6 separate regions of the Homo sapiens genome follow, and all the other regions are linked to region 6. The links come from fine-mapping of genetic effects on gene expression. A gene starts in region 6. Each other region holds a variant in brackets. All regions are shown on one strand. Distances are from middle to middle. Region 1 holds the start of NPBWR2 (neuropeptides B and W receptor 2). Region 2 has its middle 11 kb from the start of MYT1. Region 3 overlaps TPD52L2 (TPD52 like 2). Region 4 has its middle 3.4 kb from the start of TCEA2. Region 5 holds the start of MYT1 (myelin transcription factor 1). Region 6 holds the start of OPRL1 (opioid related nociceptin receptor 1).

The links. PIP is the estimated chance that this variant, and not a neighbour inherited with it, causes the effect.
Region 1: its variant is fine-mapped to the expression of OPRL1 in whole blood (TOPMed, PIP above 0.99).
Region 2: its variant is fine-mapped to the expression of OPRL1 in whole blood (TOPMed, PIP above 0.99).
Region 3: its variant is fine-mapped to the expression of OPRL1 in whole blood (TOPMed, PIP 0.99).
Region 4: its variant is fine-mapped to the expression of OPRL1 in whole blood (TOPMed, PIP 0.90).
Region 5: its variant is fine-mapped to the expression of OPRL1 in whole blood (TOPMed, PIP 0.97).

Annotation. Positions count from the first base shown.
Region 1 is chr20:64,102,747-64,107,746 of GRCh38, forward strand. NPBWR2 (neuropeptides B and W receptor 2) reads right to left here and starts at 4,819. Exons shown (of 2, transcript NM_005286.4): 1 at 4,618-4,819; 2 at 1,056-4,176. The coding sequence starts at 4,085. The coding sequence ends at 3,084. RefSeq lists an enhancer at 4,367-4,867. The variant C/T (reference allele first, on the strand shown) is at 2,387.
Region 2 is chr20:64,150,830-64,155,829 of GRCh38, forward strand. No RefSeq gene overlaps it. Among named protein-coding and RNA genes, the nearest start is that of MYT1, 11 kb to the right of the region's middle. RefSeq lists enhancers at 87-766, 767-1,966. The variant A/G (reference allele first, on the strand shown) is at 2,556.
Region 3 is chr20:63,884,243-63,889,242 of GRCh38, forward strand. It overlaps TPD52L2 (TPD52 like 2), which reads left to right. Exons shown (of 7, transcript NM_003288.4): 6 at 4,948-4,996. Among named protein-coding and RNA genes, the nearest start is that of DNAJC5, 8.4 kb to the right of the region's middle. RefSeq lists a silencer at 1,990-2,160. The variant C/T (reference allele first, on the strand shown) is at 3,093.
Region 4 is chr20:64,057,291-64,062,290 of GRCh38, forward strand. It overlaps a transcript of TCEA2 not described here. Among named protein-coding and RNA genes, the nearest start is that of TCEA2, 3.4 kb to the right of the region's middle. RefSeq lists enhancers at 1-479, 480-1,167. The variant C/T (reference allele first, on the strand shown) is at 2,741.
Region 5 is chr20:64,164,377-64,169,376 of GRCh38, forward strand. MYT1 (myelin transcription factor 1) reads left to right here and starts at 76. Exons shown (of 23, transcript NM_004535.3): 1 at 76-363. The variant C/G (reference allele first, on the strand shown) is at 2,134.
Region 6 is chr20:64,077,108-64,082,107 of GRCh38, forward strand. OPRL1 (opioid related nociceptin receptor 1) reads left to right here and starts at 2,975. Exons shown (of 5, transcript NM_182647.4): 1 at 2,975-3,245. RGS19 (regulator of G protein signaling 19) reads right to left here and starts at 2,411. Exons shown (of 6, transcript NM_005873.3): 1 at 2,187-2,411. RefSeq lists silencers at 2,313-2,992, 3,386-3,559.

The DNA of each region.
Region 1 (5,000 bases), 26 kb after region 6:
CTCAGTCCTGCCTTGCGCACATTCCCACGCCCGGGCCTCTCCTGCCCGCCCCTCGTTGTTCACTTGCTCATTACGCCTCACACCTGGCTCTGCCGCGGGCTTGGAGCGGGTGTCTGGGAAACACAGTCTCACTTGTCTCCTCAAGGGGCTCCGGGGCACCGTAACAGCGTGCAGAGCGCAGTCAGGCTGCCGTGCTGCTGCTTTGCGAGGTGTGACTGCAGCGCAGCCAGGAAACAAATCCAGGGACAGCTTGTTCTTCCTGCGGTGTCGGTGTTGGTGGTGGCTTAAAAATTGCCCACAGACTGGGCTCATGCCTGTAATCCCAGCACTTTGGGAGGCTGAGGCAGGAGGATCACTTGAGCCCAGGAGTTTGAGACCAGCCTGGGCAACATAGTGAGACCCCGTCTTTCAAAAAAAAGAAAAATTTGCCTGGCGTGGTGGCGCACGCATGTAGTCCCAGCTACTCCAGAGCCTGATGTGGGGGGATTGCTTGAGCTCAGGAAGTCGAAGCTGCAGTGAGCCGTGACCCCACCACAGCACTCCAGCCTGGGCAGCAGAGTGAGATCCCTTCTCAATTAAAAAAAAAAAAATTGAAGCAAAAGAAAAATAAACCGTCTACAGCCCCCGAGTGTGGGCTGGACATGTGACTTGCTTCCAATGCACAGAATGTAGTAGAAGGGAAGGCAAGTGGCTTCGGAATCTTGGCCTCAAATGTATTGAGGCTTCCTCTTGGCTCCCCCCTGGGTCGCTGGCTCCTCCCTGGGTCGCTGGCTCCTCCCTGGGTCGCTGGCTCTGGGGGACCCAGTGCCATGTTTCGAGGACACTCAGCCCCTGAAGCATCCATGTGTTGAGGAGCAGAGGCCTCCTGCCCATAGCCATGGAAGGAAGACTTCTCAGAAGAAGATACCCCAGCCCCTGCCCAGCCTTCAGAGGGTCAGGGCCTGGGCCAAGGTCCTGACTGCAACCTCAGGAGAGACCCTGAGCCAGAACCACCCAAAAAGCCACTTTAATTCTTGAACCACAGAAGTGAAATAGTAGAAGTTGTCTTAAGCGGCTAAGTTTTGGAGAAATTTGTTATTCAGCAACAGATATCTAATACAATGTTGTCAGGGAGGATAAGTGGATGGAGATGGCCGTGGCGTGTTTGGCTGGCTAGCACGGAGGAGGGGCACTGCTGCAGGCCTGAGCCGAGTGGGCTGGAACGCTGGAGTATTTGGTGGATGGGTGGAGGTGGGCATACACCCTGGGACACCTCGTGGGGCGGTGAATGGTGGGTCCTGTGTGCCGGCTGGACAGATTGATCAGAGCTCTGGGTCATGAGGACTGAAACCAACCCAGAACACTCACACCTCACTGCCAGGCTGGAATGCCAGGCATGGAACCAGCTGAGAGCCATGGGGCCAAGAGTCGGGGCCTGGCCACAGCACACCTGGGACCAACCCCTGGCCCCTCCCACCTGACAGTCAGCGGTCTCTGAACTGCCTGCATTTCATTACCACCCCTCACCCTGCCCCCACCAGAGTTTCAGCATGCAGCTCCTGCTGGCTGATTACAAGCCCCTGGCCACACCCCGGGAGAGAGAGTTCCAGGTGCCAGCCTGTCCAAGTGATGGATGGTCCCTAGGCTGTGGTGGCCCAGAGGTCCTGGCAAAAGGGCCCTGTAGCCTCTAGTAAAGTATGAGAGGAGCATCGGCCACAGCAGGGGTGTACAGGCCATGGCGAGGACCGTCGGCCACAGCAGGGGGGTACAGGGGAGCACAGGCCATGGAGAGGACCGTCAGACACAGCAGGGGGGCACAGGGGAGCACAGGCCATGGTGAGGACTGTCGGCCACAGCAGGGGAGCACAGGCCATGGAGAGGACCGTCGGCCACAGCAGGGGAGTATAGGGGAGCACAGGCCATGGAGAGGACCGTCAGACACAGCAGGGGGGTACAGGGGAGCACAGGCCATGGAGAGGACCGTCGGCCACAGCAGGGGAGTATAGGGGAGCACAGGCCATGGTGAGGACTGTCGGCCACAGCAGGGGGGCACAGGGGAGCACAGGCCATGGTGAGGACTGTCGGCCACAGCAGGGGGGTACAGGGGAGCACAGGCCATGGAGAGGACCGTCGGACACAGCAGGGGGGCACAGGGGAGCACAGGCCATGGAGAGGACTGTCGGACACAGCAGGGCGGGTACAGGCCATGGCAAGGACCGTCGGCCACAGCAGGGGGAACACAGCAGCACAGGCCATGGCACATGGGCACGGCGGGGCTGGGCCTCCTGCTGGAACTCCACTTGGGCTTCAGGCCACGAGAGTGGATTTCTGGGTCTCATGCGGTGCAGGTGTCCGCCTTTGCAGCAACACAGCATCGCTGCTGCCTGAGGTGCCCGCACTTACCACC[C/T]CCCGGCCCCATCTTGGGGAGAGACTATGTAACGTGGCCCAGGTCAAGATCACAGTTCAGGTTCCCTCCCCTCCCGACCACTGTCATTAGGGATCCTGAGTCCCAGAGCCTTCCAAGGGGCTTGTCCATCTGTCTGTCTCTCGTGGGTAAGTGGGCCCGGGATGCTTGCTGTGTGGGGGCCTCTGCCAGGACCTGGATCCCTGCTGCTGTCCACCCAGGGGCTGTCCAGGAAGCAGAGACATGGGAGGTATATGCCCACGGCTGTCTGTAGGTCTGGTGGCCAGCGTGTGAGGGTCTGTGTCTCCTTGCGTGGAGAGGACAGCACTGGGATGTGAACAGGCCGGGCGTCCCCTGAAAGAGACAGCCGGAACTGGGTGGGGGTGGGCGTGATGATGGGGGTGATGGTGGGGGTGGTGGGGGGGGTGGGCGTGATGATGGGGGTGGGGGTGGGGGTGGGGGTGATGGTGGGCGTGATGGTGGGGGTGGGGGTGATGGGGGTGGGCGTGATGGTGGATGTGATGGGGGTGGGCATGATGATGGGCGTGATGATGGGGGTGGTGGTGGGGGTGATGGTGGGGGTGGTGGTGGGGGTGGGGGGGGGTGGGCCTGATGGGGGTGTGGGCATGATGATGATGGGCGTGATGATGATGGGGGGTGATGATGGGCATGATGATGGGGGTGATGGTGCCCAGGCCCTTCAGCACCGCAATATGCTGCGGAAGTTCTTCCGGAAGTTGTCATCTAGAAAGGCGTAGAGGAAGGGGTTCAGGCACGAGTTGGCGTAGCTGAGGCTGGTGATGACGTAGGACATACTGATGACCAGTGGGGTCTGGGGCAGGTCCGTGGTCAGGGCCACGACAGAGGCCAGGTGGAAGGGCGTCCAGCAGAGGAGGCACACGGCCAGCACGACGAGGACCAGGACGGTCACCTTCCGCCTGGCCTTGCCTAGAGCCTTGGCTCCAGAGCGGAGCCGCACGGCCCGCAGCCTGCGCAGGAGGTCTGTGTAGAGCACACAGATGGTGCACACGGGCAGCACGAAGCCCAGGACCAACGTGTAGACACGGCTGGCCTTGAACCAGACCTGCTCGGGCCACGGGAAGCTCAGCCCACAGCTTGGGACCTGCAGCTCGTTGCTGTAGACGCCAGCGAAAGAGAAGAAGGGCAGAACCAGGACCGTGACGCCCAGCCAGACACACAGGCTGGCGACCTTCGCCCCCCGGTAGGTGCGCCAGGGCATGTGGCGGGACCTCACGGTGGCCAGCACCACCAGGTATCGGTCCACGCTCATCACGGCTAGGAAGTAGATGCTGGAGAAGATGTTGTAGTGGTCGACGGCCAGCACCAGCTTGCAGAGCAGCTCCCCGAAGGGCCAGTACTGCAGCAGGTGCTCCGCGATGTTGACGGGCAGTACCAGCGTGAAGAGCCCGTCGGCGACGGCCAGGTTCAGGATGAACACGTTGGTCACCGTCTTCATCTTGGGCGCCCTTAGGATTACAAGGATGACGGCCGTGTTGCCAGTCAGCCCCACAGCACAGATCCCGGAGTACACGGCGGGCAGGAGCACATAGAGGAACGGCAGTGGCTCGGAGAAGGTGGCATTGTGGCCAGTGCCATTGTCCTGAGAGACGTTGGCACCCATCGTGGGGAGGGAGAAGGAGCCCCTGCTGTCAAGGGGCTCTGGGTGCCCAGCGGCCTGCATTGTAGCTGGGACCGTTGACGATTTGCGCCCTGGGCAGGTGGGAGGTGCCTTGGAGTTGGGTATCTGGTTGGGGGCCTCCTTGGGCTGGATTCTAGGAAAGAAAAACAACCAGAGACTTTGAGATCCGGCCGTCTGTTAGGGCACAGCCACTCCAGGTTCTCTGGCAGAGACTGCGGCCACTTTGCCAGGTCAAGGACATGGGGCCAGAGGGAGCCTGGTGGGGTGTGTGGGGGCCTCCTCCCGCCTCTTCCTGGTGAGACTTCAGCAGATCAGTTCCCTCCTCCCGCAGAGAGCAGCTGCTGGCCACCCTCCTGGGAAGAGATGTGGATCCGTCCCTGCCCCAGCAACCCGCAGATGCACGGGCTGCGTAGAATCAAGCGGTCCCTTTGGAAACACACCTCCCAAGCTCATCTCTGGCTCCCTTGAATCTGAAGGTCCTTCCCTCAGGGGTCTTGGAGTCTGCACCCTCCCTCACACCCTCCCGAGAGATGCTGCAGACCCTGCTGGTCCAGCTACTCTTCTCTCCACTGACCTGTCCAGTGCTTCGAGTCCAGAAGTTGGTAGCCTTGGTGTGTTCCTGGTTTTGGCCAGTACAGGCAGTCGCAGGGATGGAGGGCGAGGTGTGGTCCTCACTGACAGACCTCCAGCTGAGGTTTCAGGAGTTTCAAGACCTGCCCTGCTGGCTGCCTCAGCCCCGGCTGCGAGGTTCCCAGCCTGGTGTCAGTGCTGATGCTGGTGAGGGAGGGAGGCGGATCCCCCTTGCTGACGTGGAGCCCGGAAGGCAGGCCCCACCTTCCCCTGAGCTGCAGTAGCGCCTGCAGTCGGCTGTCCCAGGGTCTCCTCAGCATTCACTTACCCAGGCAGACTCCTCAGTGGGCGGCTGAGGCACGTGTGCGCCTGTGTGTCAGGAAGGGA
Region 2 (5,000 bases), 74 kb after region 6:
CTCTCAGAGAAGAGGTGCACACCTAGGGGTCTGGCTAAGGGAAGGGGAGGGTGTCAGTACAGGAACTGCAGGGACTAGGTCAGGCTGGGTACACAGAGGCAAGGACAGGGTCGTGAGGCTGGTGCTTGATGAGAAAAGCTCAGTCTAGACATCTGGGCCTAGGCCCCAAGAAGAGTGGGGATCAGGCCTTCATGGGTGGTGTTGGAGAGCCCTGAACAGGATGTGACTTGGTCTTCCCTGTGGAGAACTCAGGAGACTAGCTGGACCATTCAGGTATTTAAGGAGCAATGTCAGTGTGCCAGGAACTCTCGGGGAGCTTATATCCCAGTGGAAGAGACGGCTCACCTCTTTGAGCTTTCTGGCAAAGTCAAGGGTGCTGAGTGCTGTGTCAGGGCCATCCAAAGGTCCTGAGATGAGTGGGACTTGGAGGAGGTCAGTCAGGACCAGCCTCGTTGTGGGTGTTGAAACACAGGAGTATCTGTGTGGAGGAGGCCTGGGGGGCTCCTGGCAGGGAGCGGGGCGCAGAGGAGCACGAGGTCCTCAAGGTTCTCAGTGGTGGCATCAGGAGTGCCCAGGTCAACTTGTCCTGGGCAGAGGATGGGTTCAGAAGAGAACATCGGCTGTGTATCCTTTGTATCTTCCAGAGGTACACAGCCCTCCCCAGCCGCCCTCCAACCTCAGGACAAAGTGTGGGTGTGCGTTTGGCTCCTGCGTTCCCCTGTCTCCTTTGTCCACAGGATGCTCTTGGCTGCCAGGAGGTTCCCACTCCTCATCTTTCCAGGCCCGGGTCAGAGGCACTGAAGTCAGAAACAGAGGTGGCAATTCCAACCTAAAAGCACAAATTACAGACAAGTCTCCCTCCTGCAGGTTTCCATTTGCATCTGGCTTTTGTGTGGCACTAGAAGAGATCAGCTTTTTGCAAGCATGGGGCTGATGAACGCATTTGCACAAAGGGAGACGGCGGAGTAGCAGGAGTTTGCAAGCTGCTTCATTAACTTGGAGCCAGTGGAATGTCTGGGATCGTCTGTGATTTGGAAACCGGTGGCAGAATGTTCCCGCGTTTCTGGTCCTCATCAGTCAGGTAGGTTGAGGGGAGCCCAAGACGAGCTTGTGGCTGCAGCGAGGGTGCAGGATGGGTACACATCTCGGTGGTCCAGCTGGGTCTCAGCTACCTTGAATCTGACCCACGGGCTTTGTGTGGTCTCAGGGCTTGTGTGTGTGTGTTTGGTCCGCTGTGTACCTGGTGTGCACACATTGCCTGTCACGTGGGTCTCTGTTGGAAGCTCTTGCCCGTCGGTTCTTCATGTGGTGCTGTCGGACATCTACTGGTCTTTGAGCCTCCAAGTCTGTGTTGGCTGCTGCAGGTCGGGGCCTGGGACTTTGTGTACCAGTGACGTGGCCCCACTGAGGCCCCGTTCCTGACTCAGCCATGCTGTCATGGCCCTCAGAAAAGATCTATCATTTCTTTGATCCTGTAAAACAAGTAAATTCAGTCTTCCTGTGAGGCACGGTGATGATTCACTGGAATCATCCCAGTGTGTAAGGGTACTTCCTCCTGCCGGGACTGCCAGGCGGGACGGCTTCCTGCAGACTCAGAGGGTCCAAGGCAGGGTTTCCAAGCAGACTTTGCAGCTGGATGAGAGGAGGGGTCAGCGCACCTGCTTCATACAGAGACTGATGTGCCTGGGCCCAGGCAGGCCCGTGCTCCAAGCACCCTGTTCCTCAGGTGGGACAGCCTCATCTTCTTTTTCCTTTTTTTTTTTTTGAGATCGAATTTCACTCTGTTGCCCAGGCTTGAATGCAGTGGTGTGATCTCGGCTCACTGCAGCCTCTGCCTCCCGGGTTCAAGCAATTCTCCTGCCTCAGCCTCCCGAGTAGCTGGGACTACAGATGCACAATGCCATGTCCTAGTTTTTATATTATTAGTAGATACAGGGTTTCACCATGTTTGCCAGGATGGTCTTGAACTCCTGACCTTGTGATCCGCCCGCCTTGGCCTCCCAAAGTGCTGCGATTACAGGCGTGAGCCACCATACCCAGCCTGACAGCCCCTTCTTTAGAGCCGGTGCCTCGGGCTCCCAGGCTCGGGGTGGGGCTCACACCCCTCCTCTCATGATCTTGCTTATCCCTTGGGGTGGGGGGGGGACCTGTGTCCTCCCAACCCCAAGCACACAGCTGTCACCCCAGGTCACCTCCTCTGCCTTTCTCCCAGCACCCTGCATGCTCTGGCCTGGGCAGCCCCCTCCCCCTGTGCCCTTGGTGGCATTTGCATACAGGTGCCCTTGCAGCTGAAGTGTTGGGGCAGGGCCAGCAAACCCACGCCCGAGAGGGCCAGTGGCTCTTGGCACAGGTGGTGGGACAATGGCCACTCAGAACACGGCTGCGCTCCCCTGCCGCCTCCTTGGGGCTCACACCTTGCTCGGTTTAGTCGCTGTCTGAGCCTTAGTTCCTGGTCATAACTGGGCTGTGCGGGGCTTGGGGCCTCATATGAGGAGGAACTGATGGCCTGTGTGTGCTGGCAGAGGAGGCGGTGTCATCCCGGCGGGTCTCTGCAG[A/G]TCCACTGCACAAACACTGCATGTGTGTATGTGCAGTGTGTGTGTTTATGTAGTGTGTTTGTGTGTCTGTATATATGCGTGTGATGTGTATATGGTGTGTATGTGTGTTTGTGTTGTGTGTATGTGTGTGGTGTGTTTGAGGTGTGCGTGTATTTGTGTGTCTGTGTGTGTGTGGTATGTATATGGTGTGTATGTCTGTGTGTGGTGTGTGTGTGTGTCTGTGGGTCTGTGGGGTCTGTTTGATGTATGTGGTGTGTGTATGTGTGTGTCTGTGTGTGTGTGTGGTGTGTATATTGTGTGTATGTCTGTGTGTGGTGTGTGTGTCTGTGGGTCTGTGGGGTCTGAGGTATGTGGTGTGTGTGTGTTTGTGTGTGTCTGTGTGTGTGTGTGGTGTCTATATGGTGTGTATGTCTGTGTGTGTGCCTGCATGTGTGGGGTGTGTGTGTGGGGTCTGTTGTGTGTATGTGGTATGTGTGTATGTGTGTGTGGTGTGTATATGGTGTGTATGTCTGTATGTCTGTGTGTCTGTGCATTTGTGGGGTGTGTGTAGGGTCTGTTGTGTGTGGTGGATGGAAGGGCCTCCCGGGGCTCTTGGATTTGGAGGGCCCACGCTGCTCTGGCCTGGGAAGGTGGGGTTATCTGGAGGGTATATTAGGCTGGGGTCCTGGGGAAGGTTCTGGGGCTCTAGGCAGAGCTCCTGGTCGGGTGCAGGCACATGGGCTTGTTGGGCAGTCCCAGGCCTTCCAGGCTCCATGGCCCGTGTTCCCTGTTGTTCTGGTGGGTGTGCCCTTTAGGCACCTGCCCAGGGTCCCCTGTGCCATCCCAGCTGCCCCAACACTGTGTGCCCCGGCTCTGCTCCTGGACCCCACGCCGCGTGCCCCGGCTCTGCTCCTGGACCCCACGCCGTGTGCCCTGGCTCTGCTCCTGGACCCCACGCCGCGTGCCCCGGCTCTGCTCCTGGACCTCCGCATGCCTCCTGCTCACTCCAGGGCAGAAACCTCCTGTCCTGGCTCTGCCTCCCTTTGAAGCCTAGCAGGGGACCCCTCTGGCCCTGGGTCTGTCCCTCCTGAGCTCTCATTTGAGGAAGGCACCAGTGAGGCCCTTCTTTGGCTCAGATCCAGCCTTTGGTGCCAGACGGTCCAGGGCGTCAGTCCCAGCTTTGTCTGGGAGCTGCGGGCCCTCGACCCTTCTGAGCCCACCTACAAGTTGGGAACAACATTGTGGACCCTCAGGGGACTAAAGGATGAAGCTGCCCTGTGCCCGGCACCAATAGGAGCATCCTCGTTCCTCCTCCTCAGGGGCTGGACCCATAGCTTGAGTGGCAGTGGGGACATCCAACCTGGCTTCCTCAGTGGGGTTTGGCCATGGAGGTGCTCAGGGTGTGCTTGTTGGAATGATGGGGGATCTCGCTCTGGGATCTGTCTCCTAGACCCTGTCCAGGGCTCCAGCTGCCCCTTCCCTCTCTGGGCTCCCAGCTGGGATGGGAGGGCCTTGGGCACAGGCTGTAGAGCCCCTGTGGTCGGCTCCCACCCCTCCCCAGAGTGCTGCATGTGAGGATGGGGACTGCCTCACTCAGGAAGCCATCCTGTCATCCCAGAGTGTGGTGTTGGCCTCGAACTGGCTCTTGATCTCCCATGTGGGGCATGGCTGGAACCATCCCAGGGTCAGTGTGTCTCAGGCTCCAGCTTGGGCATCTTGGGACAGAGACTGGAGGGGTGTTTCTCCCAACATGGCCAGGCCAGCGTGGCTGTCATCCTTGGACATCAGTCAGCAGCTGGCCAGTGCCTACCGGTTCCACCAAGCTCCATTCTTGGGAATGCAGGGCCCGGACATTCAGTCCAGAGACTTTCCCTCCCGGGGCTCTGCTGGGGGTGCCCCTCCCCATGAGCCCATCTTGACATTTGTGAGCCCTGCTCTGTCTGCTAATGAGCGATCTTCACCAGTCCAGCCTGCCATGGCAACCGCCCGCAGCCTCGCTCTCTGTCCAGGCACCCGGTAGCTTTATCTCCGAGGCCATCTGTTCTGGGAGCACAATTCCAAAGCCATTTAAACAGAGCCTGGAGCAGGGCAAGGCGCTGGGCCCTCTGTCCTCACACGTGTCTGTGCACACACTCAGGCACACACACGCACATGCACATGCTGATGTGGTGTGACCCCTGCAGGGTGGAAGGTGATGACAGGGACAGTCAGGGTGCCCCACCGGCTGCTCCCTTTTCCTGCTGTCACCGAGCCGGTTCCTGGGCACCCTGGTGGTCGGCCAGTCTGTGTCCTCCTCTCTTTCTCTGTGTTCCTCACCTCTCTGTCCATCTGTGTGTCTGAGCCGGCCTGGTTTCTGCCTCACCTCTCTGCCTGTGGGCCACCTCTCCCTCTCCATCCTTTGTCTCCTTTCCTGCCCCTGTCTGTGTCCGTCTCTGTGTTTAATCGCCTTGACCCTGGTCCCTGGAC
Region 3 (5,000 bases), 190 kb before region 6:
ACTGCTGAGCTTTGGACCCAGGAGGGACCCCCTGAGTTTCAGCTGAACTCAGCCTCGCAGGGCTGTTTTCTTCCCGAAAATGCTGGTCTCACCACAGAGCATCTTCAGGAAGTAACAGGTGTTTGTTGTGCCTAAATTATGCCGGCCATCAGGAGGCGTTTGCCCACTCTTAGTGTCCACACTCCCTTTTGAGTTTGTTCAGACCATTGTGGTGGAAATCCAAGGGGCACGTGGAGCCCTTGGCACTGATTGGAATAGCCGTGCACAAGCCAGTCCTAGGGTTTTGATCTGGGCATTTGTTTGTATGGCCTGTTTTTCTCTGGAAGCACAGGGACACGGTCCTGGTTCTCTGTCTGCTCCTCCTTCTCTGATGGGGAGAAAGGCTTTCGCTCTCTGCTCAGTCCTGGGGTTGGCAGCTGACCCGTGTCGTGTAGCCTCAGGGCATGGCTGGCAGTGAGCAGAGTTCCTGTTGCAGTGACGCTGGCACAGCTGTCAGTGTGCCCAGCCACACTGTGCCACGTGTTTGCACGTGTGCCCTGGTACATGGGGCCAGCTGGGGGAGCGGGGCCTCAGGCTGACCTGGGACGAGCCAGCTCGCTCCAGTTGGCTGGCCGTGTTCACGGTGCCCGTGGAGGGTCCTGTTTGCTGGTGTGTCTTGCCCTGCTTGCTCCTCCATTTATGTTTGTAGTGGTGGTGGGAACTCTGACGTCTGGAGCCCCTGGTGTATCCCCATCATCTCCCCAAGCAGTCACAGGTGGTTTCTGAGGTCTGGGCCCATTCACCTCGAGTTAGAGACTGAGGTTGAGAGCTCACTACTTCCTGAAAGTGAAAATTGGGTTCTGGGAGGTTTATGTCATGAGTTTAGGGCTGGATGAACCCCGGCGGACCCCTGCTAACTCTTGGGCGGAAGCCCCTCTGGACAGCTGCCCAACGCCCGTGTCCATGATGGGCCTGTCCCAGGGCAGCCCCGGTCTGTGAGGCCTTTGGTGTGCCCTGGGGCATGGGTGATGGGGATGGGAGGAAGGGAACTGGATTCAGGTCAGAGTGGGGGTTTACAGCAGGGTCAGGTCACCGTCTGACTCCGTGGTCTCAGATGAGGCATCGGCCCTCTCAGGACCTCGGGCGAGTTGAGTGTTTCTCAGTTCTTCAGTGGCTCCCTCCATGTCAGAGTGGGCCTGGCTGCAGTGAGTGGCAGCAGCTGCCCTTGGACACACAGGTTTCCAGGTTGGCGTCTGTGGGCACGGATGGAGCGCAGAGCAGAAATGCTCGGCGCCAAGGGTGTCCCACATCCTCCCACGGTGCGTGTGCTCCCTCAGCTGACGTGATTTGGGGAACACGGGCCGCTCTCGTTCTGTGGAGCTGGCCAAGCCCAGCTGTCATGCTGTGGCACATTTCACACCTTTGCGCTGCTGGATGGGGCTGGTTGTGCTCCAGGTGCTGTGGCTTCTCCAAACAGGTGTGCCTTGGGGCATAAGGCGTGGACAGGGCGTGGACCCAGGGGCCTCTTGGGCACAGCCGTGAGGCTGAGCAGTTGCTAGTCATGATCTTGCGAGAGCCTCCTGTTGAGTCAGGACTTGAGGAGACTGGAGACAGTGCTGCTGTCCCCGGTGGTGTGCGGACTGGAGGAGCCGTCCTGGAGGGTCTTCCCCTGCTGGGCCTGACTGAGCACGAGCAGGGGGCCTCCCCTGGGGCTCCCCGAGGAGGGCTGTGAGTGGGTGCTGGCCTCCCTTGCTTACACTTCGTTTCCTCTTCTCTCCTGCTGCCACCTTCCAGGGCTCATCCATTTTCACACTCCTTTAGGTAAGGCTGAGCCTGGACACACCTGTGGAAGACTTTTCTCTGAATTGGGGCAGGGTGGACTCCGGCAGGGCCCTTGGGCGGCTGTGCTAGTAGAGGGCAGTGAAAGTGGGATCACCCCTTCCAGGACAGCAGTGCCAGCCAGGTGGTTGCTGCATCTCAGGGAACAAAGCAGCAGCGTGGGATCGACGCAGAGGCCCCCCGGAACCCCCCGGCCCTTCTGTGTCCCCTCCTCGTGCTTCCCTTCAGGCTCACAGACCGCCTGCTGCCGGGTCTGTGAATAACTGGCCTGGCGTCCAGGCCTGAGTTTACTCCTGAAAAGGAGCTTTTTTTTTTTTTTAGACGGAGTCTTGCTCTGTCGCCCAGGTTGGAGTGCCGTGGCGCGATCTCGGCTCACTGCAAGCTCCGCCTCCCGGGTTCACGCCATTCTCCTGCCTCAGCCTCTCCGAGTAGCTGGGACTACAGGCGCCCGCCGCCACGCCCGGCTAATTTTTTGTATTTTTAGTAGAGACGGGGTTTCACCGTGGTCTCGATCTCCCGACCTCGTGATCCGCCCGCCTCGGCCTCCCAAAGTGCTGGGATTACAAGCGTGAGCCACCGCGCCCGGCCTTTTTTTTCTTTTTTTTGTTGGAGTCTCGCTCTATCACCAGGCTGGAGCACAGTGGTGTGATCTCGGCTCACTGCAACCTCCAGCTCCCTGGTTCAAGCGGTTCTCCTGCCTCAGGCTCCTGAGTAGCTGGGATTACAGGCATGAGCCACCACGCCTGGCTAATTTTTGTATTTTTAGTAGAGACGGGGTTTCACCATGTTGGCCAGCATGGTCTCGATCTCCTGACCTCGTGATCCACCCGCCTTGGCCTCCCAAAGTGCTGGGATTACAGGCGTGAGCCACTGCGCCGGGCCCTCAAAGGAGCCTTTTCACGTGGGAGGGCTGTGCCGACTCTCACCACCTTCCTGTTCAACATCTGTCCTGTTTCCTTGTTTTCCTTCAGATGGAGTTTTGTCTTGTTTACTACCCGAGAGCCCATAGGTGTGCCTCCCAAAGGGCCCTCCTGCAGACCAGAGCAAGCTCCTCTAGGCCAAGCCGGGGCGCCGCCAGCACGTGCCCTTCTGCTGGAACCGGGAGGTCTAGAGCCAGGCCCAGAACAATCTGTGATTTCTTGTGTTTTTACTTGACTTGGTGGTTTCTCTTTTGCCAAAAGGTCCTTACTTGACTTCTGAAGGCTGTTTGTACCAAATACTTTTCAAAAGCCCAAGCCTGGTCTCCTCACAGCTTCCTATGGCAGTGCTCTCCC[C/T]CCTCCCAGTGCTATGCGCTGGGCAACTTGGGGTGCCCCCCATGAGGCCAAGGGAGGACCCTGGGGTCGAGTTTCCTTCGGGGGCATTGTGTGGAGGGGCAGGCAGCTCGCTCCAACTGCTGGGAGTGGGGGAATCCCAGCTCTGCCCATCCCTGCCAAGTTGGGGTTGTGTGTGGATCTTGGTGTTAACTCTTGCTTCCTTCTCTGCTTCTGCCATGCTTCCAAGCAGCAGCTACTCCATCCGCCACTCAATAAGTATGCCAGCCATGAGGTAATGTATGCCTGCTCGCTGCGGCTCCAGAGCCGGGTGTCTCTGGTGGGGGTTGGGGCAGCTCCCGCCGGTTACACCTTGCCCTTCCCATATTCCTGGATTAATTGAGGACTCCATTCCCTTGGCAACCTCTGATGACTAAGGGCCGGTAAAAACCCCCTCTAGGCTGACGAGGAAGAGCTGGTAGGGGGTCAGGCTCTTCACCTGCAGCCTCCAGAGGAGATCCTTGTGTCAAACTGGGCCGTGTCCTTTCCAAGTCCTGACCCTGGCTGCCTGCAGTGGGTGGGGTGGGGTTCGAGGGGCTCGCACACAGATCCTGGCACTTGCCCTGGTGGGCTGTCACTCAGGACACTTCACGGTCTCAGCCTTCACGGAAACACCCAGAGCTGTGGTCCTTATTCTGTGCCTGTCAGGCACCACCCTGATTCTCAGGATTCTGTGCCTGTGCCGTGAGGCACTGCCCTGATTCTCAGGAGAGCCCAGAACTGTGGTCCCTATTCTGTGCCTGCGCCGTCAGGCACCGCCCTGATTCTCAGGAGAGCCCTGTTCTCCTTGTGGGGACTCTGGCTGGGTGTCGCAGACGTGCTGGCCTCTAGAGTCCCCGGGCCTGGGAGGGGTATCTGTTTGTGTGGGAGGGACTGAGTGGGATGGAGCTGGCCTGCTTTCTCCTCTTGTCTCCTTATCACTCTGCTGTCCCAGAAGTGTCCTTGGTCTTCCGTTTGCTTCTCTGAGAGATGTGCATGAAGAACTGCACAGACTTTTCATAACTTCAGTACGAGAGCCCAGGGTGTCCCTGTAGGGGACAGCAGAGAGGGGCCGACAGCCCCCCAACTGCGCAGACTTTTCATAACCTCAGTACGAGAGCCCAGGGTGTCCCTGTAGGGGATAGCAGAGAGGGGCCGACAGCCCCCCAACTGCACAGACTTTTCATAACCTCAATACGAGAGCCCGGGGTATCCCTGTAGGGGACAGCAGAGAGGGGCCGACAGCCCCCCAACTGCGCAGACTTTTCATAACCTCAGTACGAGAGCCCAGGGTGTCCCTGTAGGGGATAGCAGAGAGGGGCCGACAGCCCCCCAACTGCACAGACTTTTCATAACCTCAGTACGAGAGCCCGGGGTATCCCTGTAGGGGACAGCAGAGAGGGGCCGACAGCCCCCCAACTGCGCAGACTTTTCATAACCTCAGTACGAGAGCCCGGGGTGTCCCTGTAGGGGACAGCAGAGAGGGGCCGACAGCCCCCCAACTGCACAGACTTTTCATAACCTCAGTACGAGAGCCCGGGATGTCCCTGTAGGGTATGACAGAGAGGGGCCGACATCTCCCCAGCTGCACAGTCAAGGGGTTTCCAGTTGCCTTGTGTGACGTCTGGACCTGTCCCTGTGGTTGTTGGGCATGGCCGACCTCACTTTTGACCTGGGGAGTCTCCGGAATGACCTGGCTGTCTCACAGTTTTGCCATGAGATCTTGGGATGTTGTTAGGGACCCTTTGGAGGCTGGCCCTAACCCTGAGGCCCTTCCGAGTTAGGAGAGCAGCACAACCCTCTCCTCTTGACACCGACACTCTTCCCTCTCTCTTTAAAGGAACTCTGCGACCTTCAAGTCGTTTGAGGACCGAGTTGGGACCATAAAGGTAA
Region 4 (5,000 bases), 20 kb before region 6:
TCAGGGTTTAACCGAAACCGAACATTAACCGTAGCCCTAACGCGGCTGAGGGATCCAGGCCTTGCCTCTGGGCCGGGTGAGAGACAGACACTCGCCAACCAGTCCGCAGTGGCTCCCCGTGTGTGCGAGGCTCCCGCCTGCGTGTGTGCGTGTGCATGTGTGCCTGCGCACAGGGGAGGGAAAGTTCTTCAGCTGCCGAGGGCGGGAGTAGGGGCTGGAGCAGCACCCTGCGGCGAGGCCCCACAGGAGAATCGATGGTTCTGATGCTGTCAGCCTCTGGGTGCAAATTCTGAGGGCCCGGGAGCGTCTGGCGGCCCTGAGCAGCTTGCTGGGGAAGCTCCGTGGAGGAGGAAGTCCGGAGGTCGGTAAGCTCCAGGAGGGGTCTGCTGGGGGGCGAGAATGCTCTGAGCAAGGTCCCAGAAGTCCAGAGCTCCTGAGGGACCCGGGACCAGGGGCACTGGGGAGTTTCAGGGTTGGTCGCCGCCACAGCCCTCACAAACGAGGCCACTCTCTAGGACTGGCCACCTTCTCACCTCGGCCACTTCACAGTCCTGGGGGGCAGCTGTGGCTCTTGCTGGGAACCACCTGGACCTCCCTGGGGCTTGGGGGTGGGGTGGTGGTGAAGTGAGGCCCACCCGTCCGTGGCTCACTCCTGCCACCTAGAGGCCACTGTTCCTCACAGGCTCTGGGGCCAGTCACCTGCCTCTGCCCGGGGGCGGGACCATCCCACCGGATTGCAGGTTCCCTGATCACCAGGATGGGCCTACACCTCTCCGCCTGCAGTAGTTGCTTCCACGCAGGACTAGAGCATGTCAGGGTTCGGGGCTCCTGTCATAGCGGAGTGGCTGCGGCCCGCAGGTCAGAGGCACCCGACCTCTTCTGCTAACCCCCTTCCCTGCCTGTCCCGTCCGCTCCTTTCTCTCCATCACCTGCCCCTGCCATGAACCAGGCCACCAGTGACCCCATCCACACCTGTCCGACCAGGCTCCCCACGTGCCCTAATGCAGCCCCGTAGGCTGGGCCCACGGCTGACACCCCTTCCTGAGGGATCCCCGACCTGCCAGCCGTTGTCCTTAAGACGCCACAGCATCTTGACCTCCCCGTCTGCAGCCTCTGTGGGCCTCCACTGGGACCCACTGAGACATGTCAGGCTCCTCACGAGCTCTGTCTTGTGTGGCCATGCCCAGGGCCCCAGGACGTAGAAGACCACCTGGCATCTCATGGAGGAGGAAACAGGGCCCAGAGTGGGACCTCCACTCAGGCTCAGCAAGGGCCGAGTCCCAGTTCCTGGAGTCCTAGTTGAGGCCCCTCCTACACAGAGCACAAGGTGGAATTCACGGGGTCATAAAGGCAGCCAGTTCTACCAACACACAGTTATGCAAATATTTTCTTAAAGTGTGATATCAAAACCCAAGTGCTTCTTTACCAATCTGCTGAACAAGATGTGACTCACTGAACAGCCTCTGCAGTCCCAGCAGCAGCGAGTGTGGGGGTGCGAGGCAGTTCCCATCTGTGCCGGGTCAGCCACGGGCCCAGCTGACCAGATTTGGTTCATGGCCTCGTTCATAACTGAACGAACGACACCTTTCTGCTAGAGGTCGGTATAAAGGAGATGATGGGCCGGGCACGGTGGCTCACACCTGTAATCCCAGCACTTTGGGAGGCCGAGGCGGGTGGATCACCTGAGGTCAGGAGTTTGAGACTAGCCTCACCAATATGATGTAACCTCGTCTCTACTAAAAATACAAACATATTAGCCGGGTGTGGTGGCGCATGCCTGTAATCCCAGCTACTTGGGAGGCTGAGACAAGAGAATTGCTTGAACCTGGGATGCGGAGGTTGCAGTGAGCCAAGATCGTGCCACTGCACTCCAGCCTGGGCAACAAGAGTGAAACTCTGTCTCAAAAAAAAAAAAAAAAAAAAAAGGAGATGATGGTTTCTTCCCACCAGTTTATTTTCTGTCAGGGGTTTGGTCTCTGGGTCTCTGACCCCCTGGATTGTTGAGACGCCTCGCACTGTTCCCTCCCATCTTGCCCGACCGCCCCCCACCAGCTCCCAGGCCCAGTATGTCTCTGTCCCACCCCATCGTCTCTATAGGCCCTGTCCTGCAGTGGGTTCTGTCCCTCCCTGCAGCTTGGTAAGGTTGTTGAGGCTTCAATACACACTCCAGACCACATCCCTCTCCCTCCCAACTCTGGGACACTCTCTGCACCTCTGAAAAGAAACTCCCAGCCCTTCTTGTGCCTCTCCCTTCCTCTGGGCACCCCTTGTTCCTTATCCATCCTGGCTGGCCTGTGGCCTGTACTTCTGATCTGCACACAGGTATCACAGAGGACAGAGACCCCAGGGCCCCAGCCCCTGGTGGGGGCGGGGAGTGCAAGGGGGCAGTCGTCTTTGTTCTCGACCAGCTCCCAGCTCCCTAGGTAATGCTTTAAGAGTTACCGTGCTAGGGGATCTTTGTGGCTGAAAACATTCAGATGAACCAGATATTTAAAAGCATCCCTCATGCAAAGTCCCTCCACTGGTTGGGCCGGCCTGGGGAGGGTCAAGGCTGGGTCTCTAGTCTGGTTTTCCGGGGGCGTCTGTGTGCACTCCTTCCCCAGAACCTTGCGCTTGTCCATCCCAGGGAGAAATCAGGTGGGGAGCGGCCTCACTGCTGGCTCCTTGATAGTGACTTGCTCCAGAGGTCCGTGCTGATACCCCAGACCCCGCCCCACCAACACTTCAACTGGGACTGCGG[C/T]GTATGCACAACTGCACAGCCTCCTCTGGCAGCTCCTTGATGCTTCTGGGACGTTGACCCTCTCTCCTTTGCACCTCCACTCTTAGGAACTTGCAGCTCTCTGGGGTTAGTTCTCCTCTGTGCTGTCTGGGCTGCACCTCCTGCCCAGGAGGGGCCTCTCTGTGCTGCAGCCCTTACCAGCATCTCAGGATCTGCAGTCCTGATACTTGGAGGTCTCCCCCCCACCCCCAGCTTGAGGGCTGGCTTCCTTTCGGTGGTCTTCAAATCAACTCACACTCGGCCGTTGGAGAAGCCTATGTGTCTGGCCAGGCAGGCTCCATGGATGTGGCCAGTGTCTTTGTGGACGGTGGGAACCAGCTTTGAAACCCTGGCCGCCCGGACCTCCGAAGCCAAACTTTCTGGGGTTCCTGCACAAGGGCAGTTCCAGTGTGGCTTCTACAGGACCCTGACCAGCTCCTTGGTCTGGCTGTCAGCCATTGAGACAGTGGTTGAAGGCTGGGTGGCTCTAGCCTCCCCTCGTGCCTCTGATGAGGCTGGACCCTTCAAGTCTTCATATATGCCCAAACCATGGGATTCTGACCACGAGGACTTGCTTGGATGGTCTAGGCTGGAAGCTATGTCCCCAGCTCACTGTGAGGGGCAGAATCAGTCAGTATGGAAACCGTGTTCATCTATTAATAATAATAATAATATAATATCGCGGGGCCTCTGTCTTAGAAAGGCTTTGCTCCTCACAAGGAATTCTATGCTTTTTCCCTATGATTGAGCTTTTTTTTTTTGCGACGAGTCTCACTCTGTTGCCAGGCTGGAGTGCAGTGGCATGATCTCGGCTCACTGCCAGCTCCGCCTCCCGGATTCAAGCGATTCTCCTGCCTCAGCCTCCTGAGTAGTTGGGACTACAGGCGCATGCCGCCATGCCCGGCTAATTTTTTTTTGTTTTTTTGTATTTTAGTAGAGACGGGGTTTCACCCTGTTGCCCAGGCTGGTCTCAAACTCCTGAGCTCAGGCAGTCCACCTCCCAAAGTGCTAGGATTACAAGCATGAGCCACCGCGCCCAGCCTGAGTCTTTTTTTTTTTTTTTTTTTTTTTGGAGACAGTCTCACTCTGTCACCCAGGCTGGAGTGCAGTGGCACAATCTGGGCTCACTGCAACCTCCGCCTCCTGGGTTCAAGTGATTCTCCTGCCTCAGCCTCACAAGTAGCTGGGATTACAGGCATGTGCCACCACGCCCGGCTAATTTTTTTTTTGTTGTTGTTTGTTTTTGAGATGGAGTCTTGCTCTGTTGCCCAGGCTGGAGTGCAGTGGCATGATCGCCGCTCACTGCAAGCTCCGCCTCCTGGGTTCATGCCATTCTTCTGCCTCAGCCTGCGGAGTAGCTGGGACTACAGGCGTCCGCCACCACGCCCGGCTAATTTTTTGTATTTTTAGTAGAGATGGGGTTTCACCGTGTTAGCCAGTATGGTCTCGATCTCCTGACCTCGTGATCCGTCTGCCTTGGCCTCCCAAAGTGCTGGGATTACAGGCATGAGCCACCATGCCCGGTCTAATTTTTGTATTTCTAGCAGAGACAGGGTTTCACCATGTTGGCCAGGCTGGTCTGGAACTCCTGACCTCAGATAATCCGCCCACCTCAGCCTCCCAAAGTGGTGGGATTACAGGGGTGAGCTACTGTGCCCAACCAAGATGAGTCTCTCTCTCTCTTTTTTTTTCTTTTGAGACGGAGTCTCGCTGTTGTTGGCCAGGGCTGGAGTGCAATGGTGCTATCTTGGCTCACTGCAACCTCCGCCTTCCGGGTTCCAGCAATTCTCCTGCCTTAGCCTCCCAAGTAGCTGAGATTACAGGTGCCCGGCACCACACCTGGCTAGTTTTTGTATTCTTTGTAGAGACGGGGTTTCACCATATTGGCCAGGCTGGTCTCGAACTCCTGACCTCAGGTGATCCACCCGCCTGGGCCTCCCAAAGCGCTGGGATTACAGGCATGAGCCACTATTGCCCGGCTAAGATGAGTCTCTTAACTGACCATATTTTCCTTTTCATTTTGGCTGCGGGGAAGCTCAGTTATATGTGATTAGTGCCACAGACAGCCCAAGAAATGCTCAGCCCATTCCACCTGCCACCTGGCCTCATAGTTCGTTGGCCTGAACTTGAATGACTACAGGCTCCTTGATCCACACCCTCCCCCAGGATTGTGCCCTCTCCAGGAAACCACCCAGCATCTGCATTACTGGGGAGCTGCCAGGCAGTGGTGGGGATGCTGGCC
Region 5 (5,000 bases), 87 kb after region 6:
TTCTGATGCTATACTGTAAATTTATTTCACCTCAGAGAGTAAACAGATATATTGGAGCCCCAAGGGTTCATGGGTAGCGTATTTACAAAGGAGCCTCCTCCGCCAGCCCGTGCCACCGCTGCTAATGAGAGCAGTCATTAAGTAAATGAGACGTCGCCTTTAGCTGGCTTAGGAGTTCGCACACTAAGGGGAGAAGATATTTAATTGAAACCCGCACGCAGGCTTCCCCACATGTGACCGCTGTACGGGAGGCAGCTGCCTTCCCTCTCCTCCCCCAGTCCACCCTGCACCCCCCATGTAAATTTCATGATTGCTTTCCGTGATGTCATTTTGAAAGAGGACAGACAATAGCTGTGGGGAAAGGTAAGTCAACGTTACGTTCTTTCTGACAAAGGCAGATACCCAACGCTTGGCTTTTCCTCTTGGACAGAGACAGGGAGAGGGCGCGCGGGCAGAGTTAATTTCTAAGATGAAGGCTCTGTTTGCAGGAAAAGCAGGTCTGAGGATGGCTTTTTGAAACTGCTCTGGAGGACGGGGGCTTTCTTCTCCTCCCTGGCCTGCCGTGTGCTGTTTTTCTCCTGTCTCTCTGTTGTTCATGCTCCTCTGAGATTCCAGGGGACATGTTGTGCGTCTGACAGAGGAGACATTAGGGGAAGGGGAGCGCATATCAAAACCAGAAACTTTATGCGCATTTCTGGAAGAGGAACAACGGATATGTCTGTGGCCGTGGGACCCAGCAGCCCCGTACCTGGGGAGAGCACTGGCCGCTTAAGCAGAAGACCTCTCTGAAGCAGGGTCTCAGAGTCTGGGGTGTGTCATGTGTGACCCCCACCCAAGGTACTGAGGAGAGGTGCTCACGTGAACGTTTTGTCTGCATGTCATGCATTTCTCAACTTAAGGATCAATATCTAGGGTGCATGCGTCTGTGGGATAGATGTGCAGAAGTAAATATCGGCCGCTCCTCTCAGCCCCTTTTTTCGCTACGTGTCCGTGCAGCTGTGGAGTGTGGTTGTTTATGGTGGTAGTGTAACTGGATTTTTGTATTTAAAACTAAAAATCAGGGTTAGCTAAGAAGTTGAACACCCTAATGCCATTGTCTGTAGTTCTGGGGCCGTGGACTTTGGTTCTGTCTATTGAATTCACTTTCTTCTCTATAAACCAGGAAAATAAACAAGTGCTGGTGGCTTTGTGTTGGAGTGGTGGGTTCTCACTGCTCCTCCTGAGTCACCAAGGGCTTTGCTTGTCTCAGCATCACCTTTGAATCAGTGGACACCATTGGCTGGTAAAGTTGGGTGTTTAATTTTGGAAACCAAACATTTGCGGTGGTGCGGGGGGTTCCGTGGCTGCAGGTGGGTTTGGTCCTGGGCATGGACTCTGTCACGATGATGATAATGGCAGCGATGATTATAATTATCCTTTTGGGAGAGGTCGGTGGAGAATTTTGCCCTTGCAGTTTTTTTTTTTCTTTTAAATCACAGAAAACTGAGGACACCTCTAACGCCAGTGGCTGAGTGCACAAAAGGTGGGAGGGATGTGGGGCAGACCTGGGGGGGCCCACTCGGTGCTGAGGGGTATGCTCTGCCTCTGTCTCCTCTGAGGTGCCAGCAGAGCCTGTCCTGGCCTCACTCTGGCCTGGGGAGTGGGGGTGCTGTATCCTCTACAGGGCTGACTGAGGGAGGCTCCCCTCGGCCCCCAGCCTCCCTGCCACCCCGGGCTCCCCTCCCATTGGTCCTTGGCTGTGATTATCGCCTCCTTCCATATGGCCCTGTTAATTAACGGTAAACAAAAGAGTAAGAGAGCAGGGATTGGAGTCCTGTGGTACCAGCCAGGGTGCTGCTATCAGTAGAGGCAGGACCCTGCCCTGTCTCCCTCGGTAGCTGTTCCTTGTGCAGAGGAGGCTGGGTCAGGGCTTAGAGGGCAGTTTGTTTTCAAAGAGAAGGAGGCAGTCTTATGGATTCTTCTGTCCCGTAGAGACTGAGACTCCTACAGGGTCCCCCCGACCCCCTGGGCACCTGGACGTTTGCCGAACTTCCCAGGGGTACTTGCTGATCCAGGAGCTTGAGCAGGAGCCACAGAGAGTTGGACAAAGAGGCCTTTCTGCTCTGGAACAGCCTCGGCTCTGACCTCCTTGGG[C/G]CATGAATCCCTGAAGAGGGCCTGGTAGCCCTCTTCAGAGACCCGAGGCAGGGGGGCTGCTTCTGTCCAAAGTGCCACTCGAGGGTTTTTGTGACCCTCAGCCATTGCCCACAGATCTGGAGGTAGCCTCAGTTGTTCAGAGCTAATGCTCTGGCCCCTCTTGGAAGATTCTGGCAAAGGCAGTGGTCACCTACTCCCTTGAATGCCCCTGGTGCATGAGTGGGGAAACACTCTCTGAGATGACCCCTTCTAGCCATGTGGGATGCAAAGTTGCTCTGGTCTGGGGGTTGCAGCAGCCTCTACTTGGAAGCTCTGTTAGTGCCGGAGATGTCAGGGAGAGGCTGGCAGAGGGTATGCGGCCACGGGGGTGCATGCTGGGCAGCTCTGGCAGCTGACCAACGGCAGCCTGGATGGTGGCTGGAGCTTGGCCTGTCCCTGCTGTGGATGTGGTGGGCGCTCTCCCTGGTGCTGCTCAGAGACTCACTCCCTTCCTCTCTGGCCTGGGGTCACTGAATGTGCAGACAATGACATTTGTGGTGGTGTGGTGGGTAGAGGAGACCCACACCACTCTGCACTGGGGAGACAGGGGTCAGAGCCTGACTAACTGTCTTCCTGGTGCTGCTCAGTCTGGTGATGTCTGGGCCGCTTGGAATGCCAGTTTGCACAACCCAGTACTGTGCAGAGAGAGCAGGAGAGGTTCCTGAAGACTGACAAAGTGCCAGAGAGAAACCCGGGGCCTCCAGCCGCTGCTCGGTGGCAGTGGGCGGGCTGGTGGGGGCTGAGCTCTTCCTGGACGGACTCAGTGCAAAAGGTGCGTCTACTTTGGAAAAGACTGAGCAAGGCTTGTGTCCACCCAGTCCCTCTGTCGGGGCTCAGGGTGGGGATGAGACCGGGAACAACCAGAACACTTTGGTCAGCACCGGGCCTGGAGTAGATGAGGAGGTAGAGAACTGACCCAGCTGGTGGAACAGGGGTCAGGAGGTTAGCTGTGGGGTGGGTGGGGGCTGCTGGCGGTCACCTGATCTGCGAGCAGGCAGGGTACTGGACGGTCAGCCAGACTTTCATGTTACTCAGGCATCTTGAAGAGTGGATGCTCTGCCTGTCCCAATGCTGGAAGACACATCTCAGAGCCCCTCTTTTGTTGCCTGTTCTCTTGTAGGAACCTGGGCGGGAGAGTGGAGCAGGGTGCCCGCAGGGGCTGGGGGGGCTCTTCTCTTTCTTCCTCTCTCCCATCTTCCTCATCTTAGATCCTCCCCCTCTGCATTTTCCGTGTGAACTCCCTCATGAATAAACCAGAAGTTAGTTGTCTACAGATGTAATTTTAACAGGAATGTTGTGGTGTGAGTTTACAGGAAAATGGTCTTTGGGAACCAGCATCATTAGATTAGTCAGACCGAGAAACGCCGTGTTTCCCAGAAGGGAAGAGAGCAGTGGCTGCCGTGCTGCTCCCCCGTGGGCTTCCTGCTCTTTGGGGACTGCGGGACCCATCCCCGCTCCAGGACAGCCCCACTGGGGAGCCCACTGCCCAGCCCGGAGTGTCTGCTGGAGGCCTGGGGGGTGGAATGTGCTTTCACGGCCTCTTGAGGTTCCCGGCATTTTTCTGTCTTTCAGACCAAATTTCCCCAAACATCACTTTAAAAAACTCAAAACAAAAATGAGCAAGAGGAATTTCACCGGAATTAAAATGTTTTTGATCTCAGGCTTCCACGGAGCCAGCTTCAGAGAGAAGAGATTAATGGATACTTGCAAGTGGAAAGTGTAGTTTGAAAATGTCTTCCTGTTTCTCTTCAGTGTTACTGGAACTAACCAGATACAAGTGTGGAGTCTTTTCTCCCCAGGGTTAATGCCATTAGGAGCGTTCCTTGTGGGAAGATTGGTTTCACCCATCACTTCATCCTTTTTTTTATTTTACAATTTGCACTTAAAAATGCAATGTTATTTTAATCGGGAACGAAAGTAACTCAGCGTGCTTTAATCTGCCCTGGCTGAGTACATCTGCCTTGGCCAGGATTGGAGTCCAGGCCTTGCAGAGGAGAGAGGATGTCGACACAGCTGTGGGTGTCTGTGGTCCTCCTGCCACCCCTTGTCCTGCAGCACCGGAAGCCTCCACTCAGCAGCCCCAACCTTCAAGAGAGTGACTTTGTGCTCTGGCAACTGAGTGTGTGGTTTGCCCTGGGGTTGCTTGGAGTTGATTGGATATGTTCCCTGTGCCTTGGGGTTTATTTGGGACTGTGGCCTGGGAGCACGGCCTGTGCCAGGAGGGTGCAGGTTGGATGGTCCTCAGGAAGTAGGCTGCAGCGCTCTGCAGGAGTCAGGGTGGCCAGGCAAGGTGGGGGTGAGCACTGGGGATCTGGATGCTCGGGAGGAAAGGTGGAGGCACCATATGGCCTGAGCTGCTGACAGATGAGCCTGCTGGCCCCACCTCTCTCTCACGCCTGGCTTCACACCTCCATCGTGTTCAACACTGGTCTGAGGGCTGGGGCAGAAGCCATCTGGGTCCTCTTCTTTTTTTCCATTTTGCTGCCTGCAATCCACACATCAGAGGAGGAGCGTGAGAAGAGGGGGCCCTGGGTCAAGGCGGTTGGAGCCTCTCACCTGGTCCTGGGGGACCCTCCATGTCTCCCTCAGGGACCCACAGAGCTGCCAGTGGCTGACCTGTCCTGCCTGAGTGGGAGGAGAGTGGGAGTTTGGATGCTCCATGGTGCACCAAGGCCTGCTTTAGAAGGCCCTAGAAGGTCCCTGAGACTCTCGGACCGCAAACTGACAGCAGCAGGTGCCTGGGGTGGCCTCCCAGTGAGCCAGAGCCACAGACCCGAGGCGCGTCCCCAATCCCGGTGTGCGCCTCGCTGAGCTAGCTTGTCAAAGCG
Region 6 (5,000 bases):
ACAGCAGGGCTGGGAGGGGGTCCAGGATCATTGAGGAGGGAGCTGCAGCAGCTTCTGGCCCCTCCTCCCAGGCTGGGCCCCAGATGAGGCCCCCACTGGAGGTTCCGAGACACCCCCATCCGCTCACTCCCTGGGAAGCCGGAAGCCTGGGTTCCTCTTTCTTGGTTTCCGGCTCCCAGCCCCTCCCAAAGGGGCCCCGAGAGTCTGGGGCTACCAACTGGTGCGTGCGGGTGGTGGCCAGACTGGCTTCTAGGGTGTCTGGGGTGGGGAGTGGGCAGAGTGGCTTCCCACCAAGAGTCCAGGTCTGTCTGTGGGTCCCAGAGGTCTCAGCCAGGGGCAGCAGGCTAGACCTGCAGCAGTGAGGATTTAAGTGGGACTCAGGCTGGACTTGCTGAGGGTGTGGGAAGGGGGGCAGGGCCCCGGTGAGGAGGGACATGCCCCCCAAACATGGTTCTTTGGTCCTGCTACCTCCCACCCAAGACTTCCCTCCCTCCTTGCCCACTGCCTCTAGGCTGTGAAACTGCTGTGGAACCAAGGCCCTACCACAGGGTGCGCCAGCCAGGGAAGTGGGGGTGGCAGGGGTGGGGGGCACCCTGCTCCCCAGTCGAAGCCTCGGAGTCCCTGAGGGGGGTGTGGTGTGGTGCATGTCCCTCCCAGCATTTGGTTGCACCGTCTGCAGGGGAGGTGCACCAGGAGCGCCAAAGCTGTGAGTGGCCCTCATGCCACCTAAGATGCCACTTCGAATCCCAAGTCTCCTTGGGCGATGGTACAGGGGGGCCAATCAGTGCCCCGGAGGCAGTTGTGAACACCTGCGCCCACTTCTGCCCAGGGCAGGGAGGGGCCTCCGTGCACATCCGCCACCCTCCTCATGTGCCGCCACCCTCCCTGGCCAGGAAGCTCACAACTTGATTCTACTTTATTTTCTCAATCTTCATCCCCCCGCCACGCCTCCCCTAGCTCGTGGCCTTTGAATGCTTGTTTCTGGCTGGTTGGCTTCTCTTGGCCTCCTGGGACGGTGTGTGAATGGCCCTCAGAAGAGACAGTGCTGGAGTTCTGCACTCTTAGGGCCCCCAATACCCCCGAGGCCTGGGCATGCAGAGGCCACTGCCCTGGCCCAAGTCTGGGGCAGGTGCAGCATCCCCTGGGACCTTGGCCCCTCACCACCGGCCCAGTTTCCTCTGAGACTGGGGGTCCCACGGGCTCCTAGCAAGTAGATGAGGAGACCGAAAGTAGCCCTGCAGCTGGGCTTTCTTTCAGGGGTCAAGTTTCTAGGGAAAGGAAGGGGCGTGGCAACCTGAGGTTTGGTAGCTGTACCCAGACGGGGCTGTCTGTGGCTTCCCCAGGCAGCAGTTCTTCCTCCTCTCTGTCCCCACCCAGGGTCCTCCCCCACACTCTAGCACCCCTGAGACTGTCCCCCTGGGCTACCATCTCCACCCCAGCTCTGAACTGGAGGAGGGGACGTGTTTAGGGGTGCAGGGCCGGGGTGCTAGGGGCTGCATTTGCTGCAGAGCAGGGAGCCAGCCCCTTCTTTCCCAGTTGCAGGCCCTGGACCTGGTCACCTGTCCCTGGACCTGGCTTCCTGTACCCTTCTCAGGTCAACTGGGGCAACCCATGTCCCCAGGCTACCCTCCCCCCGTCTCTCCTGGGGGATACAGAGTCTCAACTAGGGTCCTCCTGCTTGTCAACCTGGCATTGGGGACCCCCTTCCCCAGCCTCCCAGGCTTTGGCCCCCAAGTCTGGGATGGGATAGGCTGGATAGGCGGCACGTCTGCTCTCTGGGGATAGAGGATCCCTTGGGAGTGGCTGCCGCTTTGCTCCACAGAAGGAAAAAGAACGTCCCAGAGCCTGCCCAGTCCAAAAAAAGAATAAGAAAATGTGACAATCCCAGAAAAAAATGTCATAACCTTTGGGAGGGGGGTTGAAGAGGGGCTCCATTCTCAGTCCTTAGCTCCTACCCAGGGCCTTTCCCATCTGCCACCCTCCACATCTGGCTGGTGGGCGAGCCCTGGCCTGGCCCCTCCAGGGAAGGCCAGCTCTCCCCACCTCTGAAATGGTGGTGGTGGCCCACCCACCACGCTCCTCTCTCTGCTGTTAGGGTCCAGTCTGGAGAAGCCTGTGTTCTCCTCCAGGTGCCTCTTTCTTCAGCCTCTGACGCCCCCACCCCTACCTCAAAGCTCCCTACTCACCAGCGACCCAAAGGCGGGGTGGGGGCAGGAGGGGCCAGGTTGGGTCTGGGCCCCACCCTGGCTGCCGAAGGGGCGTGCACTGCAGCAGCAGGGACTCAAGTCAGACGGCAGGAGGGACTCCTGCGGCGCTCTGGAGGGAGGCTAGCGCCAGGAGCCCCCGATCGGCTGGGGCCGGGGGCGCAGCGCCTCCCCTACAGCTCGAAGGGCTGAGTGGCTGCCAGATCCAGCGGGGTGGGGGCGGGGGCGGACAGGGTGTCCCGCCCCGGCCCCTCCTCACCGGGCTGAGAGGGGGAGGGAGACGCGGAAACCTGGGTTCTTCCGGCCCCCACCTTTGAGCAATCACTTCCCCAGGCTTTGAGCTCCAGAAAAAGGGGAACCCGGCTGCGGCGCCCCCTCCCCCACGCGCGGGGGGCGGGCTCCACTTCCACTGCGGCCCAGGGTCCACGTGGACCTGGCGGCGGGAGCCCTTGGGGTTCGAGTCCCGTGCGCCGGCTCCCGAAGCTCCCGCCCAGCACGGTCCCCGGGCCCGGGCCGGGAGGGGCAGGGCCGCTGTCCCCGGCGCTGCGCGCGCGCACTCACCAGCCGCGCTCCCGAGCCACTCGCGCCGCCGCCGGCCCGCGCGCTCCAAGGTCCGGCCCGACAGTCGGGGAGGGGGCGCGGGGGCGCAGTGCGCAGGCGCCTCGGCGGCACTTCCCCAAAGCCAGGGGCCGGGACTTCCTCGCGCCGGCGGTCGCCGGGCCCGCCCCGCCCGCCGCGCCCCGCCCCGCGCTCGGCCGGCTCCGCACCCCACCCGCCCCGCCCGCGCGTCGGCCCCCACAGTCGCCTGGGGGTGGCCCGGAGAGTCGAGGTGCTCATAGTGGAGCCCTGGCTCCCGGGCGGACGGAGCCGCACGGTAGTAGATGGGGGTGTGGCCGTGGCCCCCGACTCTGCTCGGCGGGGCCGTTCCTGCTTTGCCATCCGTGTGGGACTTCCACGACAGTGGAGGCACGAGAGCTGGGCCCCATATGCTGCTTGCCCAGCTTGGGAAAGAGGAGGCTGCTGCAAAGGACCGATCGGCGGGTACGCCAGCCCGGCCCACCCCTCGCCTCCGTGAGCCGCGTCTGTAAAACTGGGTTAAGAGCCGCCTGTCTGTGCTGTGGGGGGTTCCCAAGGAAGGGGGAGATTCCTGTGCTGCGGGGCTGGGGAGAACTGGGGGTGCGGGTTCTTGCATCCGGAGTCATGCCGAATGTCTCCTGTGGGGCCTGGCAGAGTCCCTGCTGACCCGTGTGTCCCAAGATGTCCTAAAGCTTAAGGCCACACTGTCCCCTTTGCCACGAACGCCCTGTCCCTTTGGCCGACTCTTCTCATCCTTTATGACTCGGTACAGACGTGGGTTAGGCTTCTCATCGCAGCATGCTTTGGCCCTGTGTCAGGGTGGCCCTGACCCTGCTCTGGAAGTGTCTGCAGAGCATCTGTGCCCCCCGCCCCTCCCCTGGCCCGGCTGTGTGCAGCTCCTGTCCTCCCCAGCACAAGCACTCCACCCGGATAGTTCCCAGTGTCGGGATCTGTTCATAAAATGCCTTCCAGTTGCACAGGTCAGGTGCACACCTTACACCTTCACAGAACTCTGAGGGGTGCAAAGGCAGCTGGAGATTCTACTTGTATTCCTCATTCAACGGACAAGTATCAGTATCTGGGTGCCCCTGTGGGCCAGGCAGTAGGACCAGAAGCCAGCAACATAGATCAGCCTGGATCTTATGCTGGGGGGCGCAGAGTGAGTTGTGGGGAGCAGGCAGGGAAGGCCTGGGTGAGAGGGGGGAGGGCTGAGGAGGGGAGGGTATTGCGCTGCTGAGCGGGGGCGGGGGCCCGAAGGGGGAGGTCAGAGGTCAGAGGGCCCTGGAGGACAGACAGGCTGCCTCTCGAAGCTGTACCCAGAACCCTGTGACTGCCATGTTGTCAGGCCAGGCAAGGAAAGGCAGGGGCCAGGAAGCCCACAGGGACAAGAGGCAGGCTGCTACTTATTCAGCCCACATAACACTCCTGAGCGGTGGGCACAGGTGAGGTCAGGGAAGCTCAACGAAGATGGGCCAGCACCTGGCCCAGGCCACACACAACCAGGCTGACCCCGCTGAGCCGGCCTGTTGTCTCTGCTGTGGGAAAATGCAGCTGTGGGCAGCTGGCAGGGGGTGAAGGTCAGTGCCCTCCCTGCCCCCTCGGGTCACTCTACAACCCCCCAGTCATTCCCCCGTCTCCTCTGGCCCCTTGGGCCTGCTCTCCACCGCCCTGGCTTCTGCCTCTCGGCACACAGCATCCTGAAGTCCATGGGTGGGGCCAGGTGAGCTGGGCAGTTGATGGCGGAGCTGGGATTTGAACCCAGGACCCTCTGCGCCCTGACAGCCCTCAATATATTGGGCTTTGGACCACATGCCTTCCTTCCCATAGAGCTTTCTACAGGCAGGCGTCCCTCCAGGCCCCATTCCCCAGCCTCCTTTGCACATCCAGCACCCCCTGCGCCTTTTCATGGGGATCAAAGGGCCCGAGTGCCGGCCTGACCCTGGTGCAGTCACTGAGGTCACTGTCTTGCTGGCCTTCTCTGGGTGCTGGGTCTGCTGTGCCTGTCTCTGCCCCTCTTCCCTCTTGCCTGTCTGATGCAGAGTGACCCATCCCCTTTGGAGCACTTGCTGCTGTGGGGTACTGCACCAAGACCCTTATTTTAAAGATAAAGAAATGGAGTCTCAGAGAAATGGTGAAATAATATGTGATTCTCCCAGTAGATGAACTCATTCTAGGCACTCAGTCAATCCCCAAGACACAGAATCCTGGGGTCCAGGCTGC